2 linked regions of the Homo sapiens genome follow. Each later gene encodes a partner of the first gene's protein in a complex. Each region holds a gene or a part of one and is shown on either strand. Other genes may lie near its edges.

What was found.
Region 2: AIM2 (region 1) and CASP8 share a complex: the UniProt entries of both Homo sapiens proteins name them as parts of the AIM2 PANoptosome complex.

What each region holds. Positions count from the first base shown.
Region 1 is NC_000001.11:159,060,879-159,067,565, forward strand, and holds the end of AIM2 (interferon-inducible protein AIM2), read right to left. Parts: intron 5,452-6,687; coding exon 5,032-5,451; intron 2,797-5,031; coding exon 2,608-2,796; intron 1,841-2,607; coding exon 1,814-1,840; 3' UTR 1,606-1,813; downstream 1-1,605. UniProt on the Homo sapiens protein: Sensor component of the AIM2 inflammasome, which mediates inflammasome activation in response to the presence of double-stranded DNA (dsDNA) in the cytosol, leading to subsequent pyroptosis.
Region 2 is NC_000002.12:201,263,536-201,271,487, reverse strand, and holds part of CASP8 (caspase-8 isoform 2 precursor), read right to left. Parts: intron 5,028-7,952; coding exon of another isoform or gene 5,002-5,027; coding exon 4,697-5,001; intron 1,979-4,696; coding exon of another isoform or gene 1,883-1,978; intron 1-1,882. UniProt on the Homo sapiens protein: Thiol protease that plays a key role in programmed cell death by acting as a molecular switch for apoptosis, necroptosis and pyroptosis, and is required to prevent tissue damage during embryonic development and adulthood.

The DNA of each region.
Region 1 (6,687 bases):
ACATAATTATTTCAAGTGGATAAAAAACTTACAGCAAGCTTGCTGTGTCATGTGGTAAGCATATGTTTAAATTTATAAGAAATTTCCAAACTCTTTTCTAATGTGACTTTTCATTCCCACCAGCAATAAGTAAGAGTTTCAATTGCTCTGTATCCTTCTCAGACCTTAGCATTGTAGATGCATATTAAGTTTTTAAAAATGGACAAACTCTTTTGCATAAAGGTTATACCATTTGACATTCCCACCAGCAGTGCACAAGAGTTTCAGTTTTTCCAAATCTTTGTCAGCACTTGGTATGGGTAATCTATTTTAATTTAAATTTTAGCTGTTCTAATAAATATATAATGGCATCTCACTGTAGTTTTAGTTTCCATTTCCTTAAAGATGAATTATGTTGAGTGTATTTTTATGTGCTTATTTGACATCCATGTATCATCTTTTTGCCCATTTTAAACATTTAATTGGTTGTTCTGCAATTATTGAATTTTGAGTGTTCTTTATAAATTCTGGATACAGGATCTTTTTGTTTTTTGAGACAGAGTCTTACTCTATCACCCAGGCTGGAGTGCAATGGCGCAATCTCAGCTCACTGCAAACTCCGCCTCCTGGGTTCAAGTGATTCTCCTGCCTCAGCCTCCCGAGTAGCTGGGATTACAGGTGCCCACCACCGTGCCCGGCTATTTTTTTTTTTTTTTTTTTTTTTTTTAGTAGAGATGGGGTTTCACCATGTTGGCCAGGCTGGTCTCAAACTCCTGACCTCAGGTGATCCACCCGCCAGGGCCTCCCAAAGTGCTGGGATTACAGGTGTGAGCCACCGTGCCTGGCCTGGATACAGGGTCTTCAGCAGCTGTGTGACTAACAAATATTAAGCCCCAATCTATGGTTTGCCTTTCAATGCTCTTAATGGTACCTTTTGAAGAACAGAAGTTCTTCATTTTGATGAAGTTCAAATTATTAAGCATTTATGTTATGTAGATTGTGCTTTTGGTGTGATATCTAAATCTTTAATCTTTGCCTACACCAAGATCACACAGATTTTCTCCCATGTTTTCTTGTAGAAGTTTTATGGTTTTAGCTGTTTATGAAAAGCCAATGATCTGTTTGGAGTTTATTTTTGTATAAAGAGTGAGGAATGGCTCAGATTCATTTTTTTAAGTATGGATATCTAATTGTTGTTGTAGCTTTTTTTTTAGTCTTTTCTCCACTGAACTGTGTTGTACTTTTGTAGAAATCAATAGACTGTAAATGTGCAAGCCTAGTTTTGGCTCTCTAGTTTTCCATTGGGCTTTATGCTTATTCTTTCTCCAATAACACAAAATTGTGTTATTATTTCTATACCTTTTAAAATATTTCTAAATCATTGCCCTATGGGACAAAATATACATCTTTAATTATTCAGTATCTACTTTCAAATAATACTGCGCTGCTTCACATGTTGTACAGGATCTTCTAACAGTGTACTCCTAATTCTTCCCTCTTGTATTTTGTGCAATTGTTGTCATATAGTTTACTTTTAAATTTGTATAAACATCATATAATACATTGATAAAGTATTTTCGCTTGAGACAAGGGATTGACAAACTAAAGGAGATAGTGGGACTGTAATGAATGAGAAACAGATGTTTATTGTGATCATCTGTTGATATTCTGAATTTGTTTATCCAGCAATTATTCTATCCTAATTTGGTGGAGAGAGGAGCCTGTGAACTGCAGCTTTCAGGTAACTTACAATCTGATTGAAGAGGCTGTATCACATATTCTTCAATTAAATGCTGCTTAGACCAGTTGGCTTGAATTGGTCCTTTTTACTTCTCTATGTTTTTTTTTTGGCCTTAATAACCTGGATGGAGAAAAAAAACATGCAGTCTGAGATGCAGTCGATGAGTGGCCCCTCCACTGTTTGCAGTCACTATGGCCTTCTGAAGTGTATGTATCATCTTCTCATAAAATTATTTTGTTCCCACCCTTCTAATACATTGGTCTGCCTTGGATCATACTCCTGAAGTGAATATCTGACCTGAGAAATACACTCCCACTTAGCAAGGTCACATACGCATATTTCTCAAATCTTGGCCTCCACTCTTACAGAGATAGCAGGCAGTGCAACCAACACTGAGACCTGGGGAAGAGCACCAAGTAGTGGCAGGACACGGGTAGGAGGGTGTGGTGGAAGGTCAAGAGTAGGGGTTTACATGGACTTAACTGCACTGGACTATGGTAGGTGCAGACGTGGTGGGACTGGCTAGGGAAATGTGTCCTCAAAGTATTTATTGTCTGTCTACTTTCAAAGACATTAGTCAGAATGACTTTTCCGACTCTGGGCAAGCTTTCTGCTTTAGACTTGTAGTATAAATAAGGAGCTCTTTTTTGGGCTCTGTGGGCACAACAATATGCGCCTCTGCCTTGAAAAGCCCATGTTCTCTTAACTGTGTATCTAGAATACATGTTTCCTAAGAGGGAGGTTCCTCAGTTCTGTGAGATGAACGTGTACTAAATATCAATGTCTTCCACTCTATATCCTGTTCAATGGCTCCAGTCCGGCTTTCTGATAGAAAACAAAAAATATCACCCCCTTGGAGAGTTGACTTTGTTCCATGCAGTTCCCACCTTTATGGTGCTATGAACTCCAGATGTCAGCTGTAGTTTTTCTCCATTTTTTGACAGTGTGAAGAATGTAAGTCGAACCTTATCTCCTTCCTTACATTTCATTGTGTCCTCGTTTCTAACCCCCAGTACTTCCATTTTCCCAGTGTTGTCACTTAGGTCAAATAATATGTTTTTCTTCTTTTCTGTTACCTATAAAAGAAAATCAACACCCAGCCTCTGATAATCGGATTAATGAATGCCGCATCAGTCACACATCAGACATGCCAGAAGAAGGCTCTAAAAAGAAATCAGTTGATTCTTGAACAACACAGATTTTACCTGTGCAGGTCCATTTATATGGGAATTTTCCTCTGTCTCTGCCACCCCAAGATGGCAAGACCAACCCTCCTCTTCCTCCTCAGTCTACTTAACATCAAGACAATGAGGATGAAGAACTTTATGATGATCTACTTCCACTTAATGAATAGTTAGTATATTTTCTTTTTTATAATTTTATTAATAACATTTTTCTCTAGCTTACTTTTTAAGAATATAGTATATAATATGTATAACACAAAAATATGTGTTAAGTGACTGCTTATGTTGTCCGTAAGTCTTCTGATCAAGAGTAGGCTATTAAGCAGTTAAGTTTTTGGGGAGTCAAAAATTATATGCAGATTATCAACTGCTCAGGGTCAGAAGCCCTAATCCCTACATTGTTCAAGGGACAACTTGAAAAAATGTTTCTGCTTTGAAACTAGCAGGTATATATCTAATAGATGTTAGCAAGTTCACACAGAGGAGGCAGACGTGTCTTACTTAGAACATGTTGTCTCCTATGCCTATCTTTCCAGTCCTAAATTCCCTTCCTTTAGGAGGAGGCCAGGGTGGCCCATAGAAGCAACAACTGCTGGATAGAGAAGATGGAGCTTCTCCAGGGCCAGCAGCCAGATTAGTCAAGGGAAAAAAGAAGACCCTGGGTTGGAAGAGAGCTATTTATTCTATTTGTTTATTTTTTGAAATGGAGTTTCGCTCTTTCACCCAGGCTGGAGTGCGATGGCGCAATCTTGGCTCACTGCAACCTCCAACGCCCTGGGTTCAAGCGATTCTCTTGCCTCAGCCTCCCGAGTAGCTGGGATTATAGGTGTCCGCCAATACACCCGGCTAATTTTTGTATTTTTACTAGAGACAGGTTTTGCCATGTTGGCCAGGATGATCTGGAACTCCTCAACTCAGGTGATCCATGCGCCTTGGCCTCCCAAAGTGCTAGGATTACAGGCATGAGCTGCCGCGCCCAGCCTGAAGAGAGCTATTTAAAACAAGTCCAGGAGAGACATGAGGTAATGATGCAAGACCCAGCCAAGAGTCTAGTAAGTAATCAAAGACAAGAAACAATTCACAATCAAGTCTAGATCCAAAGGGAACAGGAGGTTGGTCAGTTATTTAGGAGATTGATCGTATTTTAGGTTTAATTTTATGGACTAAATCAGTATATATGAGTGGATAGCTGGCCAGATTGAAAGCTGAAAACTGGGATAAAGAACATGACTTTCCTATCCAAGGTCATTTTACACTTGAGTTTTCCAGGAGGACTGGAGAGTCTTCCTATCAATTCCTTCTGAAACTAACCCAGGGCAGCAGAGGTTATTCTGAGGCTCTGAATGCAGGGGCAGCAGGTTCTCTCTCTATGGTTCTTTAGGTCCTGCCCTAGACCAGAAAAAGTCATCCCACAAGGCTAGTTCCCTGAGGCTCAGAATCATAATAAATACTTTATTATTTCTCACTTCTAATAAGTATCCTGGAGGAGCGCCTCTGCCCCGCGGCCCTGTCTGGGAAGTGAGGAGCGCCTCTGCCCGGCCGCCGTGCAACCTTCCAAGTGTGAAGTGACAGCCTTGTGTGTGATCTTTTCTGTCTTCCCCCAGTTTGCATTTTTGACATTAAAGTTTACTTTTTAATTAAAAAAAAAGTCTCCTCAGGCTAACTCTTTCTTCTGTTTTCTTCATTTAATCACAGTTCTTTAATCCTGCCTTGCGTATTGGTTTTTCAGGTCATTAATCTGGTTTATTACTCAACTACACTTACTTTGCATTCACAACAATAGTCACTTAAAATAAAGATAATCACAACTATAGTCACTTAAAATAAAGATAATATGTACAAAGTACAAAAATAATGCAGAAATAAAAATTATGTGAATGAACTAATTCCTTTTTCAGAGGCTACTGGGGTAAGTTGAAATAGGATCGTGACATTTTTGACAATAAAAACAATTTTTGAGTTTTTGTATGAATTTTGGCATGTTTACTCTGCAGCTCTTTAGAACTTTGTATTTTTTTATTTTGTCTATATAGAAAGACATTAAAACCATTTCCAAAGTTTCTTTAAGATCAGATGGGAAATACGTTATTCTTACTAATCAATATGAAATTAGATATGAAAACTTACCTTCTGGACTACAAACAAACCATTCACAATTGTTCCAAGGGGCTGAGTTTGAAGCGTGTTGATCTTCGGGGTTTCACCAGCTTTTCTGATAATGTTCAGCGGGACATTAACCTTTTGGTCAGATTCAGCATCTAACACACGTGAGGCGCTATTTACCTCTAAGAAACCACTGTGCCGATAATATCTTGCTATTATAATTATTCTCTTTGGAATGAATTTATCTTTCAGCAGTGTATTAAAAACTTTTACAAAGAAGAATTCCTTTTCTGTAGCCACTGTAGCATGAAACATCTCCTGCTTGCCTTCTTGGGTCTCAAACGTGAAGGGCTTCTTTGCTTTCAGTACCATAACTGGCAAACAGCGCTTCTGAAACCCTTCTCTGATAGATTCCTGCTGGGCCACCATCTGTTTCTGTTCAGGCTGAAGACAAGAGAAGAAAGATATCAGCTGTGAGTCAAAAAGGTACTATTGAAAGGACCTTACTTCACCTACAGTGCTAAACCTCAGAAAGCCAGCAGAAGATAGGTGGAATCAAGGGAAGAGATACAGAGGGGATACGAAGAGAGTTGAGGCCTAGAACGATCCAGATAGAACAGAGAGTGCAGAAGGAAGATTTCGACTCCTGTATTCAGATAAGACGGTGTAACACGTTTTGGAGGTAGGATCCCTGAAACCAAATCCTTGCTTTGCCATGTACTATATATAAAGACTTCATCAGATTTCTGAAATACTGCTAAGCCTCGGGGTAAATCTGACAAATCTGATTCCATCTTCTATCAATTCCATTCGGGCATGTGTCCTTGTTTCTCTATCCAATACTGTCCTAAATGTTCATTTTACTCTGGTATAAAAGTGAGGGAGCTCAGTGACCAGCACAGGGCTCCCCAAATTCCTAGGGAGCATTGTACATAACAAAATGCAGATTACATTTAATGTGAGTTAAGGGGGAGACCTAGTTCAGAGATCTTATGAGTGAGTTAAAGGAGAAATTTAAAAGGAGAATTAATACTACATTTATGGATTTACCCTTAAATAATGAATTATGCACTAAGGTTTATATTTAAAAAGTACATCTTATTATTTGAAATTATAAAAAAAGAAATAATTTAAATACCTAAAAAATAGATTTGGTTAAATAAAATAGGTATAGTCACAAAAAGATTACTGTGCAAATATTAAAAATGCTTTAGAGAAATATGATAAACTGTTATAACTGATTCAATAAAGGGAAAGGTCCTAAACAGATAAACAATCTGTTTCTTATTGGATAAATAAGCAGTTAAAGCACACACACAAACACACTAGAGAGATATTTACCAACATCAATGTATTTTTTTCCTAGACGATACAATTATAGATAATTTTATTCTCTTCTCTGTGTTTTTTATTTTTCTGAATTAACAGAGATAAGACACCTCTTTTTGGTTTGTTTTGGGAGAAAATACTACTTTTTAAAAGCCACTTGCCATTTAGAACCAAAGGGAAATACAGGGCAAAACAAACAGAGGCATAAAAAGCCAAGCGTAGGAGTCTCTGAAGGGTGTCTCTGATGTGACCTGGAGCTTGGGGCAGTGGAGCTTGGGCCAGTAAGGGGCCCTGATGGGCAGCATAACTGACTGCATTTGGATCAATGCAGGGAAAGGTCAGCTCCACTGA
Region 2 (7,952 bases), on another chromosome or scaffold:
AATCTTTTCCCAAATAATTTCCCATTTGATATATGGAGTCACAGTGGGCTTGATTCCAAAGGCCTCCCTTCAACATAAAGCCAGTTAATGGCATGGTTTATGAGTTGAGCCCTTGGAAAGAGGCTGGTGTGGTGACACAGAAGTCTACTGGCTCCTCCCCGACTTTCCCACCCTTAACAATTTAAAGTTCTATCAACTTTTCTTTCAGTTTATTTCAGTTGAGTAAATCTTGTTTTCCTTTTTTTTTTTCTGTAAAATGGAGATTTTGTTGCAATAGCAAAATGCTTTGCCTTTTGGAAATTATGCTTTTCAAAATGCACATTGGCTCATGACTTCCCTAATCAAAACTGGTCAGTATTCTCCCAGTCATTATCTTCAGTAAGACGGCCAAGCATTCGGTTCTGGAATACAAAGTCTCCGAATACATCCCTATCACAGACCAGACCGCAAACACGAAAGGACCTGAAGCCAAACACACCCAGCTGCCCTGCCCTCACCCCTTTCTGTGGTGCCGCTACACCCCATCCCCTTGTCTATCTGCAGAGGCCCATCCATGAACAATCAGCTCAAGCATTGCCTGAGCATCCTCAAAGCTGCATTCACTCCACTATGACTTAGTAACCCCAAAACGATAACACACATAATTGTCTGTTGGCCTGGTGCAGTGGTTCATGCCTCTAATTCCAGCGCATTAGGAGGCCAAGGCAGAAGGAGGATCACTTGAGCCCAGGGGTTTGAGACCAGCCTGGGCAACATAGCAAGACCCCATCTCTACCAAAAACATTTAAAAATTAGCCGGGTGTGGTGGCATGCACCTGTGGTCCCAGCTACTCCAGAAGCTGAGGTGAGAGGATCACTTGAGCCCAGAAGGTTGAGGCTGCAGTGAGCTGTGATCATGCCACCACACTAAAAATAAAAACAGAAAATAATTGTCTGTTTAGAAACTGTTCAAGTCCCCTAGTGGCCAGGTCCGTACCCTTTTTATTTTCATAAACCCAGAGGGTTGTGAGGTGCAATGATTGAGCTCAGCGGACCCAGGCTATTGGTGTTGGAGCCTTGGTTCCACTATCTTTGAGCAGTGTTAACTTTAGACATGTTACACATTTTTTCCTCGTCCATAGACTGAAGATAATTATCCGTAACCACATCATAGGAAGGTTTCGAGGGTTACACAAATAAGTTTATGTGAAGTACTTAAATCAGTCTTTGGCAACACACTAAGTGCTCAATGAGTGATAGGTGTTACTATTTCCTAATCTATGCCTATCACATTTATGTGATTGGCACATTTAGGCTCTTGGAATATGCTTGTCGAATAGGTGAACAAAGGAATGTTTTAGAAGTCAGCAAACCTTTCAATACTATGGTGTAAAGGAAAATAATTTTAATACAAAAACACGTTGACTTTAAAATTTAATTAGAAAAGTAAAATTCTGAAAATAAAAATGGCGTAGAAACAGAAATTACTCAGTATTACCATCTGCCTTATCCCCCTTCTCATGGACTCTCTACCCTAGAAGTGTTTATCTAAAGCTTTCAGTTTGGCCAAAATTGGATCTAATCCAAAGCTACTCTGACTCTTTCACCTTTATTACAAGGTATTTACCCTTTTGCTTTCCTCATTATTGAAGCCTATAGGCTTTCTTGTACCATCACCATTTAGTAATGAACCTGAATAGTTTATAAGATCTTTATTTTATAGGTAGCAATTATAACTGGAAAATAAAATGTCTAGTGTTTTCTTATAATGGTAAGTGGTCACCCTAGCATATTTATTAGCTTCTGGCTAGTATTCAATGATAATGAACAAGCAGTAAGTCAGGATTGCCCGGACCCTTTTATCTCTAAGCCAATACATTAAAGATTTTAAGAGAGATCCTGCCTTATTAATAGATGATCGACCCTCCGCCAGAAAGGTACAGACTGTGTCTGGCACTGGCTGTTTGCTTCAGCCCAGCTCATGCGGCAGAAGTGGAACCTTCAAAGGACCAAGATGGTGGGCACAAGATGAGACCCCCCTCGGCTTTCCTTGTTCTGGGGCTGTGGGTTTTTAGGACTAACTGGCGCCTTAATGAATAAGTGCCTTATAAAGACTTCACAATGCTAGTAAACCAAAGCTATCTAGTGTACTGGTTGAATAGTGTTCTCCCCTCTTCCCCAAAATTCATGTCTATCTGGAATATGAGAATGCGACCTTATGTGGACCCAGGACGTTTGCAGATAAAATCTCATTAAGATGAGGTCATGCTGGCCAGGCGCAGTGGCTCATGCCCGTAATCCCAGAACTTGGGAGGCTGAGGTGGGCAGATTGCATGAGCCCAGGAGTTCAAGACTAGCCTGGGCAACATTTTGAAACTCCATCTCTACAAAAAAATACAAAAATTAGCCAGACATGGTGGCGGGTGCCTGTAGTCCCAGCTACTTGGGAGGCTGAGGTGGGAGGATTGCTTGAACCCAGGAGGTGGAGGTTGCACTGAGCCGAGATCATGCCACTGCACTCCAGCTTGGGCGATGTAGTGAGACACTGTCTCACACACACACACACACACACACACACACACACACACACACACACACAAAGATGAGGCCATACTGGATTAGGTGGGCCCTAATTCCTAATCCAGTGACTGTCTCATAAGAGGGAGATTTAGACACAGAGAAGGGAACATAGGCAGAGACTGCTGTGCCTCATCTACAAGACAAGGAGCACTGAGGATTCCTCCACCCACCCGAAGCAGGGAAAGGCATGAAAAAGATTATTCCTCGGAGCCTCTTAAAAGGGAACCAACACTGTTGGCATCTTGACTTCTGACTCAGGCCTCCAGAACTGTGAAAACACATTTTAAAAACTGTTTTAAACCTGCTAGTTTGTGTTACTTTGTTACAGCAGCCCTAGGAAACTTATATACCCAGAATATCTCTTTCTTTTTTTTTTTGAGACAGAGTTTCACTCTTGTTGCCCAGGCTGGAGTGCAATGGCATAATCTCAGCTTACTGCAACCTCCACCTCCTGGGTTCAAGCAATTCTCCTGCCTCAGCCTCCCAAGTAGCTGGGATTACAGGCGTGAGCCGCCACACCCAGCTAATTTTTGTATTTTTAGTAGAGATGAGGTTTCACCATGTTGGCCAGGCTAGTCTTGAACTCCTGACCTCAGGTGATCAGCTCTCCTCAGCATCCCAAAGTGCTGGGATTACAGGCGTGAGCCACCTCACCCGGCCCAGAATATCTCTTTTTTCACTTAAAATCAAAATGGTCAAGCCTTGGCTGGGCATGGTGGCTCACACCTATAATCCCAGCACTTTGAGAGGTCAAGGCTGGTGGATAACTTAAGGTCAGGAGTTCGAGACCAGCCTGGCCAACATGGTGGAACTCCGTCCTACTAAAAATACAAAATTAGCTGGGCATGGTGGCACACACCTGTAATCCCAGCTACTCAGGAGGCTGAGGCAGAAGAATCACTTGAACCCTGGAGGTAGATGTTGCAGTGAGCCGAGATCATGCCACTGCACTCTAGCCTGGGTGATGAAGCGAGACTCCGTCTCAAAAACAAAACAAAACAAAACAAAAAATAGTCAAGCCTCAAAACAAAAAATAGTCTCTGAGAATAGAAAGACCAGAGCATTCATGGGCTGAGCCATCAGAGGACAGCAGCTGTCAGCCCTGGTTGTGAACCCTTTCCATCTCACATGCCATAGTTATCAACAAGCAAACAGAGACAATGAAATGGGCCCAGAACGAAGACTTCAGTAGAAGTTTCCTGAAAGCAAAGCTAAAATTGCTTTAAGTAGTGTCCGATAATAGGAGATGTTGAAAGAGAGAAAGTGACAATGTGTTTCTGTTTTTAAAGTCTTGTCACAGCATCATGAAGTTGTAACTGAATGGGGTTTCTCTCTCACACCTTTGGTTACCCACTCTCCCTAGGGTGGGGAGAAGCTGAGTTTTACAGCCTTTGGCAGGATGACCCAACGTGCCACTGTCTTCCTATAGAAGCTTAGAACTGTCATACAGCCGGGCTCACAGGAACTGGGCAGCCTCGGTGGAGACTGCCTAGCTGTATGTGCCAGGCCAGCGGCTTACAGCTCCGTAAAGAACTTAGTCATTCGAGTCTTTAAGTGTGGCAGAAAACCCTTAAATCTCATTGAAAATTTTCATAGCCATCCGCAAGCAGGTGGGAGGGGGATTTCAGGGTGGGAAGCCATGATGCTTTACTCAATGGATGGGCAAAGTAAGCACACAATCTGGATATCGAGAGGCATCAAGATAAGAGAGGAAAAAAATGAGAACACTTAGAAAAACTCTATTATAACTTCAGCATACCTCTAAGTAATGTTTCACTTTGAAAAATAAATTTTTATTTTATGGTCTTAGCATTTCTATAGAATTATATATAAGGCCCCTAAATTTCTTAATCTGGCTCCGGTGGGACATCTTCCCAAAGCCTCCCAAGTGATACTGAATGTGGTTTCTCTCTCACGCCTTTGTTTACCCACTCTCTCTAGGGTGGGGAGAAGCTAAGTTTTACAGCCTTTAGCAGGACCACCCAAGGCACTACTGTCTTTCTGTAGAAGCTTAGAATTGTGGCACTGCTGGGTTCCCAGGCACTAGGCAGGGTACCACAAAAAAAAGCCCCAATCAGCTCAGAGGCTGTCCATTCAACCCACACCTCCCAGTCCCACAATGGGAGTTTCCACCCACCTGTAGGCAGAAATTTGAGCCCTGCCTGGTGTCTGAAGTTCCCTTTCCATCTCCTCCTTTCTAGTGTTTAGGTAGGTAATCAGCAAATCCAGTCTATTAATTCGGAAGAGCAGCTCCTTCAGGAAGGACAGATTGCTTTCCTCCAACATTCTCTTTTCCTGGAGTCTCTGGAATAACATCAAGGCATCCTTGATGGGTTCTTGCTTCCTTTGCGGAATGTAGTCCAGGCTCAGGAACTTGAGGGAGGCCAGATCTTCACTGTCCAGTTGTTCCCCAATATCATAAAGATTTCTGCTGAAGTCCATCTTTTTAAAAGGCAGGAGAATATAATCTAAGTCAAAATAAATGGTATGTTCAGATAAGGAAGAAAAGTACCATTTGCTGGCTTGTTCATCAAAGGCTACTGCAACTACTAGGTACTGGTCATTGTGCTGTCAGCACAGGAGAGAAAAAAAGAACACCAGACAAGTTCCCTCTTACTGTTTAGGAAGGTAGACATACAAACAAGCCAATGGGCTGGGCGCGGTGGCTCACGCCTCTAATCCCAACACTTTGGGAGGCCAAGGCAGGCGGATCACGAGGTCAGGAGTTTGAGACCAGCCTGACTAACATGGTGAAACCCCGTCTCTACTAAAAGTGCAAAAATTAGCCAGGTGTGGAGGCACGTGCCTGTAATCCCAGCTACTCAGGAGGCTGGGGCAGGAGAATCGCTTGAACCCAGGAGGTGGAGGTTGCAGTGAGCGGAGATTGCACCACTGCACTCCAGCCTGGGTGACAGGGCAAGACTCCGTCTCACAAAAAAAAAAAAAACACAAAAAACAAAAAAAACAAGCCAATGGTTAGAGGGTTGTGACCAGAGTGTGGTAGGGATGTAGAGGAAGAAACCTTAACTTAGCCTGGGAGAAGGGCTTCCTATGGGGAAGGGATTTTGGGGAGAATGCGAGAAAGCACAATTCTTACAGGAAACAATTAATGTAAAAGATGGAGGTAAGAACTTTCAAGTCCATTCAGGCAGGCACAAGGAGCTCAATAAAGTAACTACAAAGTGTCTGGGATGGAGAGTGATGGGACAAAGGGATGAAGCTCTAGCCAGGTACCATGTCACAAAGGGGCCGCATTACCATGGGGCGAGGGGTTTAGGCTTTGTCCTGGAGGTGATGAGGAGCTAAGAAAGGACTGTAAAAATGAGAATGACATTATCCAACTTGGAATTAACATTCAAAGTGCAAAGGACAGACTGGAAGACTTAGAAGTAGGGGACGTACTAGGACCTATTAGGACCAACCTCCCATTCAACCCCACCATCAATCCCCAAAGTCCATTATATCCCTCTGTATGTCTTTGCATCCTCATAGCTTAGCTCCCACTTTTAAGTGAGAACATACGGTATTTAGTTTTCGTTTTTTTTTTTTCTTTTGAGACCCAGTCTTGCTCTGTCACCCAAGCTGGAGTGCAGTGTCGCGATCTCGGCTCACTGCAACCTCCGCCTCCCAGGTTCAAGCAATCCTCCTGCCTCGGCCTCCTAGTAGTTGGGATTACAGGGACACACCACCACACCCAGCTAATTACCTAGAATAATGGCCTCCAGCTCCAAGATTAAATATTTTTAAAGTGACCTAAAGATTTTGAGTTTTTAAGTGACCCAAAACTTTTAGTTTTCAAAGTCTTACTTTCAAAAATATCCTTTCCTTCCATTCCCTGAAAGAAAATTTTTAAAAATCTTTTCCCCCTCCTGATTACAGCAGCAGTGGTTTTTTTGTGTGGAAATGGAAACCACAGAGGCTCTGGGGACTCATCCCCTACTCCCACCCCACTGCGATCATGTTTGTTCCCTGCAGGGAGCTGGCCCCCAGCCCTACCGGCGTCACCCTCCTGATGACAAACTACCCTCTCACTAGAATGGAAGCTCTGTGAGGGCAGAAACTTTTGCTGGTTTATTTTTTATTCTTATTTTTATTTTTGAGACAGGGTCTCACTCTGTCACCCAGGCTGGAGTGCAGGGCGCAATCTTGGCTCATTGCAACCTCCACCTCCCAGGCTAGAGCCATCCTCCCACCTCAGCCTGCTGAGTAGCTGAGACTACAGGAGCAAACTACCACACCAGGCTATTACTGGCTACTGTCTCAGGCTGCTGGCATGATAATTGTCTGGGCTTTCCTGAATGAATAGTAATAGCTATCTTAGACATGTTCAGTGTAGAAATAATCAGGTCTATTGCAAGTTGGCCAGAATTTCCAATAGATACTGCTAGCACGTGTCAATCGTTGCTCTAGGCCCTGGGAATGCAGTAAAATAAACCAACGTGGCCCAGGAGTTCAGGTCTACCCTGGGCAAGACCCCAGGTGGCAAGACCCCAGGTAGCAAGACCCCAACTCTTAAAAAAAAAAAGCAAAACCAAAACCAAAACAAAACAAAAAAACAGGTGGGTAATTTAGCCATCTCTGTCAAAATATAAAATTCACATAAACTGGCCCACAATTTAACTTCCAAGAGTTTTTCCTACATTCACTTAAACAAGTATACTCAAAACCATATATAAGGCTATTCATGGTAGCATTCCTTGAAATAACGAAAGAGCAGAAACAACTGTTTATCAGCATTAGAAGATTTAGGCAAGCTATTAATCATATTCCAGGGAACTCTATTTGGCTACTAGAAAGAATAGGAAGATCAATGTGGTTGAGCCTGCGTGATCTACATAATGTATTGATCAGTACATATTTTGTGTATTCACAGAAGAGCTCTGACAAAAAATGCACAGGAAGTTCCTTCAGTAATGTTAAAGAAAAGCAGAATTACACACAGATGTGGGCGTGCAGTGTGAGAAGGCTGATGGGTGGAGGTGACAGTGAGAGCTGCTTTATTTCCCATACCTTGCTGCACAGTTTGTACTGTTTGAATTTTTACCATGTACATGTATGACTTATTCTAAAACATATACCTAGTTAAAATCTTTATTTAAAGATCCATTCTTATTCACATGCTGGAAAAGATCTAAACTAGATCTAACCCTGTTTAGTGCCATTAGGTCAACTGTCTTTACAATTTTTAATGCATTCTAACCTCTGTTAAAGTCTCATCTTACAGAATAAAACCAACCAAAGAATCAAATGAAAGCAGGACTTCCTTTCCCCCATCCCTCAATTATTTTTTTCTGAGGATAACAATGCTTAGTGTATTCATTTTAGACAATACAGAAAAGATAAAAAGGAAAATTAAAATTATGTATAATTCCACCATCCAAATATAAATGCCC